Regions from separate parts of the Homo sapiens genome. Here region 2 is linked to region 1. The links come from fine-mapping of genetic effects on gene expression. A gene starts in region 1. The other region holds a variant in brackets. All regions are shown on one strand. Distances are between the middles of the regions.

What was found. PIP is the estimated chance that this variant, and not a neighbour inherited with it, causes the effect.
Region 2: its variant is the best candidate, but not a certain one, in a credible set for the expression of TMEM120B in lung (TOPMed, PIP 0.81).

What each region holds. Positions count from the first base shown.
Region 1 is chr12:121,711,249-121,714,149 of GRCh38, forward strand. TMEM120B (transmembrane protein 120B) reads left to right here and starts at 1,504. Exons shown (of 12, transcript NM_001080825.2): 1 at 1,504-1,716. The coding sequence starts at 1,648. RefSeq lists silencers at 1,346-1,605, 1,616-1,665, 1,846-1,975.
Region 2 is chr12:121,780,516-121,783,416 of GRCh38, forward strand. It overlaps TMEM120B (transmembrane protein 120B), which reads left to right. Exons shown (of 12, transcript NM_001080825.2): 12 at 1-1,553. It overlaps RHOF (ras homolog family member F, filopodia associated), which reads right to left. Exons shown (of 5, transcript NM_019034.3): 3 at 568-677; 4 at 357-491. Among named protein-coding and RNA genes, the nearest start is that of RHOF, 12 kb to the right of the region's middle. RefSeq lists enhancers at 1,398-1,457, 1,498-1,567. The variant T/C (reference allele first, on the strand shown) is at 1,366.

The sequences.
Region 1 (2,901 bases):
CCTGGCTAATTTTTTTGTGTGTTTTTAGTAGAGATGGGGTTTCTCCATGTTGGTCAGGCTGGTCTTGAACTCCCAACCTCAGGTGATCCTCCTGCCTCAGCCTCCCAAAGTGCTGGGATTACAAGCGTGAGCGACCGCGCCCGGCCTCCTTCTTTCTTTATGAGACTGGGTCTCGCTCTGTTACCCAGGCTGGGGTGCAGTGGTGCAATCATAGCTTACTGCAGCCTTGACCTCCCAGGCCCAAGGAATTCTTGGACCTCAGCCTCCGGAGTAGCTGGGACCACAGGCGCGTGCCACCACACCCAGCTAATCTGTAAATTTTTTGTAGAAACAAGGTCTCCTTATGTTGCCCCCGTTGGTGAGAATACATTTCTATTGTTTAAACTACCCAGGTTGTGGTTATGGCAGCTTTAGCAACGAACACAGGGGGCCGGGCACGGTGGCTCATGCCTGTAATCCTAGCACTTTGGGAGGCCAAGTCGGGCGGATTACTTAAGGTCAGGAGTTCGAGAGCAGCCTGGCCAACACTGCAAAACCCCGCCTCTACTAAAAATACAAAAATTAGCTGGATGTGGTATAACCTGGCTACTCCAGAGGCTGAGGTATGAGACGCACTTGATTCCGGGAGGCGGAAGTTGCAGTGAGCTGAGATCACACCACTGCACTCCAGCCTAGGCGACAGAAAAAAAAAAAAACACCCATAAAAATAGAAGAAAAAAGAAAGATAAAAAAGTAAAGTAACACAGGTGTCATTTGAAACTGAGGCCTGAATGATGAAAAAAAGGCACATCGTATGAAGATTTAGAGGGAAGAAAGTTCCATGCAAGGTCAGGAAGAGAAAAAGCAATGGCTGGAGGGTACGAGTCCAGGGCGGTGAGATAGAAGGGACTGGAAAGCTAGGCAGGGGCAGTTCTTGCAGGACTTGGCAGAGGAGGGGACAGAACTGGATTTAATCAGCTTGGAGGCGGTTGTCCCTTGAGCGACAGAAACAGCTGTTAAGAACGTCACCCAGAGCGTTAGAGGGCAGGAATCTAGGATGTATTAGCTGCAGCACATAATAATGACAACGTGAAATGACCGTGCCCTCTCTGCGCTGCGCCGCCCGGCCCCCGACCTTTTTGGATGGTCGATGTCAGCGCCAGCCTTCCGGGGCGCTGGCCTGGGCTCAAGTCAGGCAATGACCAGGGGCCGGTGAGCTTTCATTTCACCTCCCCCAAATCTCCTTTCCCCAAACTCTAGACACCCCCAAAACACACAATCTAAGTCAAATAATCTCTGCAAATGCAACCTGCAGACAAGTCCCCCAACTCTTCCTGGAAGAGACAGATTCTGGAGGCGCAGAGGCACTGCCAAGGGGGCCGCAACAGACCCCGAAAGACCTTGCGAGCCTGCCATGTCCCGGTCCGGAACGCCGCACGCGGGGCGGGGCGGGGCACATGCGCACGCGCGGCCCCGCCTCCCAGGCGTGGGGCGGGGCGGGCGCCGGGGCGGGGCCGTGACGTCAGTTGCGCGCGTGGCTCTGGCTGCGCAGGAACAGCTGGTGCCTCCGAGGGCGGTCGGCGAGCGCGCGGGCGTGGGGCGCTGGGGGGCCGGTCGGGCAGCGCTGCGGGAGCAGCCGCCGGCACCGCCGCCTTGCACCATCGCATCATGTCCGGGCAGCTGGAGCGTTGCGAGCGCGAATGGCACGAGCTGGAGGGAGAATTTCAAGAACTGCAGGTAGGGCCAGGCCACCTGGTCCCGCAACTCTGCTGCCCGCGGTGCAGCGCCTTGCCCTTCCTGAGCCCCCCGGCCCGGGCGGTGGGGACAGTCAGGGCCTAGGGAGTGCCCCGGAGAGGCCCTGGGGGCGGACGGGAGGCATGGACCAGCCCCCTCCCATCACCCGGCGCTTCAGCTCTTCGTCCACGTGGGGCGCCGGGTCGCAGCCCCCTCTTCCGCCGCCCTCCCACTGGCTCTCTGCTCCACGCACCCCCTTCGCTGCAGAAAGTTGGTCTGTGGCCTCTGAGGCAAGTTCCAGGCGTGTTCATCTGTGGGGGTGGTTCAAAGAGAACAGCCCAGCCCCCACCTCTGCAGGGTCTCCCCAGATCTCACCCCGCCCCCTCCCATCTGCTTTTGGTAGCTCAGCTCCCACCCCGTGCTCTGGCGGGGCAGCACTATCCTGCAGCTCTGTTTTGGGAGGTGTACTTAAGAGCTGTTCACCTTGAACCTCTAGGTTGTGCTTGGGGATTAGGGACCCCTATTTCCTGTCTTTGGGGGCTCTGACGCTGCTGCAGGCTGATTTTGGCGTGGAGAGCATCTGTCAGTTCGGACAGCTGAGTAGCCTCACCCAGTGATAGGGGAAACTCCCAGCTCTATCCTTCTGGCCCGGAGCCTTACACGGGGTGGAGTGAGGGCGGGTGTAAGGCGGGGGTCCCCTGAGAGAATGGCATTGCTGCTGGGTGTGGGGAGCGGTCCTGGCAGCAGTTGTTCCTGCTAAGAGGTTCAGAGAGGCCCCAGCTACCTACCGTGTTGACTAGAGACGCCTCAGGAAACCTTGGGGTTGACCAAGAGGGACTCGGTGACTATTTTTGAAGACAGGGCTGTTCCCTCTCCAGTCACGGGATTGTTTTTCGGGGGGTTGGCTTTGCCTGAAATTACATTGCACACTATCACCCCAGTCCTCTCATTTGGAGCAGTGACATTGTCCCTGTCCATGTACCTCTTGTCTGCAGTTCAGTTGGCCTCCTACAGTGTGCAGAGGGGAGAGGAGGTTGCCAAGGGTGTCTCTGATGGGTCTTTCTAGACACGTGGTTGTAGATTCTGATCAATAGACAGAGGGTTGCTGGAGAGCCGGGGCAGGAATGGGGGTGCCCTTTCAGGCATGAATAGAGGGGAAGGGACCTAGACACATCTCGACCTGTCCAG
Region 2 (2,901 bases), 69 kb after region 1:
CAGGACGGCGGCTCATAGCACAGACTTTGGATTGCAGTGGATGGGACCAGATCCTGGCTCCACTTCTCGCTAGCTGTGTGGCCCTGGGCAAGCTGCTTAACCTCTCTGGGCCTCAGTTTCTCCCCCTGTAAACTGGGGGATGTGAACAGCGCCTGCCTCCGAGTCCTAAGGATTGGGAGTAGTCGTGTAAAGTGCTCAGGTCCACAGGCCATCAATACTAATAGTTAAAAATTATTCTTAGAATCTTGCTTCCCTCAGCTCCCTGAAAGGCCACTAAGGCACCCCAGTTGCAGAGGCCAAAGGTCCGGGAGGCTTCACAGCCACGGCTGTGCCCCAGGGTCTTGGCCCCGGCCCACCTGCATGTAGGTGATGGGCTCCAGCTGGGCGGCCCGGAGCTTCCGCAGCTGCTCCTTGTCCTTCCTCAGGTCTGTCTTGCAGCCGATGAGCACCATGGGGATCCCGCGGCAGAAATGCGTGACCTCAGGGAACCACTGTGGAGGGAGGAGGCGGGATCAGGGGTGCGGCCGGGCCCAGATGTGGGGCCACCACCCAGGAGGCCGGCCTCACCTTGATGAGGACGTTGTCGTAGCTGGTGGGATTCATGACGTCATAGCAGATGAGCACGAGGTGGGTGTTCTGGTAGGACAGGGGCCGCAGCCGGTCATAGTCTTCTTGCCCTGAAAGCACAGAGCAGCGGGGGTCAGGGGACGTCCCCTCCCTGTCTGGACTCTGACGGGTGAAGGGGAAGGGGCCAGGCAAGTGACCCTGCCTTAGGGCCTCAATTTCCTCATCTATACAATGGGCAGCAAGCCAGGAGTGCTGGCACAGGCCTGTGGTCGCAGCTACTCGGGAGGCTGAGGCCGGAGGATCGCTTGAGCCCAGGAGGTCAAGGCTACAGTGAGCCGTGATCATGCCACTGCACTCCAGCCTGGGTGACAGAGCGAGACCCTGTCTCTTAACAACAAAACCCATGAGCGGCAGCCCCCCAGTCCTGGATGGTGGTAAAGAATCCTCAAGATCAAACCCACGCAGTGCTGAGAGCTTGGCCTGATTCTAGGGCTGGGGCTGGAGAAACTGCTAGAGATGATGCCGATAGCCAGTGTGATCCCCCTGCCCTGATGGTCAAGGGCAGAGTGCAGACTGGAACCCTCCCCTCCCCAAAGATTCAGACCTGTGGGGCTGAGTGGGCTCATAGTGTCCCCAAGTCCTGAGAGGCTGGTGTCTGGCTTCAGCCTCCAGCTTCTCAGGTTCTGATGCAGTCAGCTGAGTTCCCTGCCTATTCTTGCAAGCACTAGGAGGAGGGTGGTGGGTTGCTGGGAACAGCACCGAGCGCCCTCCCCACCCAGATTCACAGAGCACACTCCC[T/C]GGGGGGATACTTTAATCCGGAGGCCGTGACGCCTGGCTCCGCCCCGAGACGAGCTGAATCCAAATACGGATCTAGGCTTGAGCTTGGTTGGGTTTGCTTTTTTCTTCTTCTTCTTTATAAACAATTCTTTGTAACTTTTTGTATTGACAGTTTCAAACTTACAGTAAAATTGCAACACGAGTATGAAGAGCTCTCTGACTGTGATTCACCACCTGTTTGCATTGGCCCCTCTGACTTTATCTGGAGACAGACACTTCTGTTTCTCCCTGTCAGGGCACGGTAACTGTAGACATCTGCCTCTTCACCCCTTAGCTCAGCGCCTATCTGCTGAGAACAAGGGCGTTCTCTCCCCTGCCCCAAGCCCCCAGAAACCGCATGGACTCTGCATTCTAATCTGATCCACAGACCATAGTCAGATTTTGACCATTTCACCAATATTGTCCTTTATTTTTTTCCCCGTTGAGGAGCCAGCCCAGCCCAGGGTTCTACACTGCACTTAGTCATCCTGCCCCGGTATTTTTTTAAAATCCCCACAGTGAGAACTGAGAGCTTTTCAGGCTCATTGGTGACCAGCCCCCCGCCCCTCCACTTCCTTCCACTGAACAAGGAACGTGGAGGCCCAGGAATCCCCCTGCCCTGTCCGCAGCTGTTGCAGGTGCTGGGTGGCACCAGCCTGCCCCCCGTTCCTTCTCTGCCAGACACCTCTCAGGACAAGTGGCCTCTCCACGGAGTACCACCAGGCCATGTCTGCTCCTAACCCCTTGCTGGTGATGGGGCATGGCCACCCTCTCCCCACTGGATCCCCCTCAACCCAGGGACCTCCAAAAGTCTTCAGCCAGCTCCCCCATGGAACAGTGCTTAAGGGTGAGGTCACTAGAGACAGATGAGACACATGTTCAAATCCCAGCTCTGCCCTCACTGGCTGTGTGACCTTGACTTAGACAGGACAGTGGTGGGAGTCTTGGCTTCCCCATCTGGGACATGAAAATCATAAAATCTACCTCACGGGGCTGTCACCAGCCAAGGCACACCATTGCACTCCAGCCTGGGTGACAAGAGCGAAACTCTGTCTCAAAAAAAATAAAAATAAAAATAAAAAATGAATTAACATAAAGCATTCAACGCCTCAGTTGCACAAGCCTCATTTCAGGTGATGAACTGCCGCCCGGGGCTCATGGCTAATGCAGTGATTGGGGCAGGTGCACGGCATTTCCTCCACTGCAGAAAGTTCTACTGGACGGTGGGCCCCTGTCTACTGCTGGCCACCCCCCGCCCCTACACCATCCTCATCTAAGTCCTCGTCTGTCCCTCTTCCCTGCCTCCTGCAGCCCTTTGATGAATCCATTATCCACCTGACAGCTGGATGGATCTTAAAACACAAGTCATATCCTGGCCCCCTCTCCACAACTGAAGCATCTTCAATGGCTCCCTATTGCCCCCCCCCCCACCTTTTCTTTGAGACAAGAGTCTCGCTCTGTCACCCAGGCTGGAGTGCAGTGTCCCAATCTCAGCTCACTGCAACCTCTGCCTGCCGG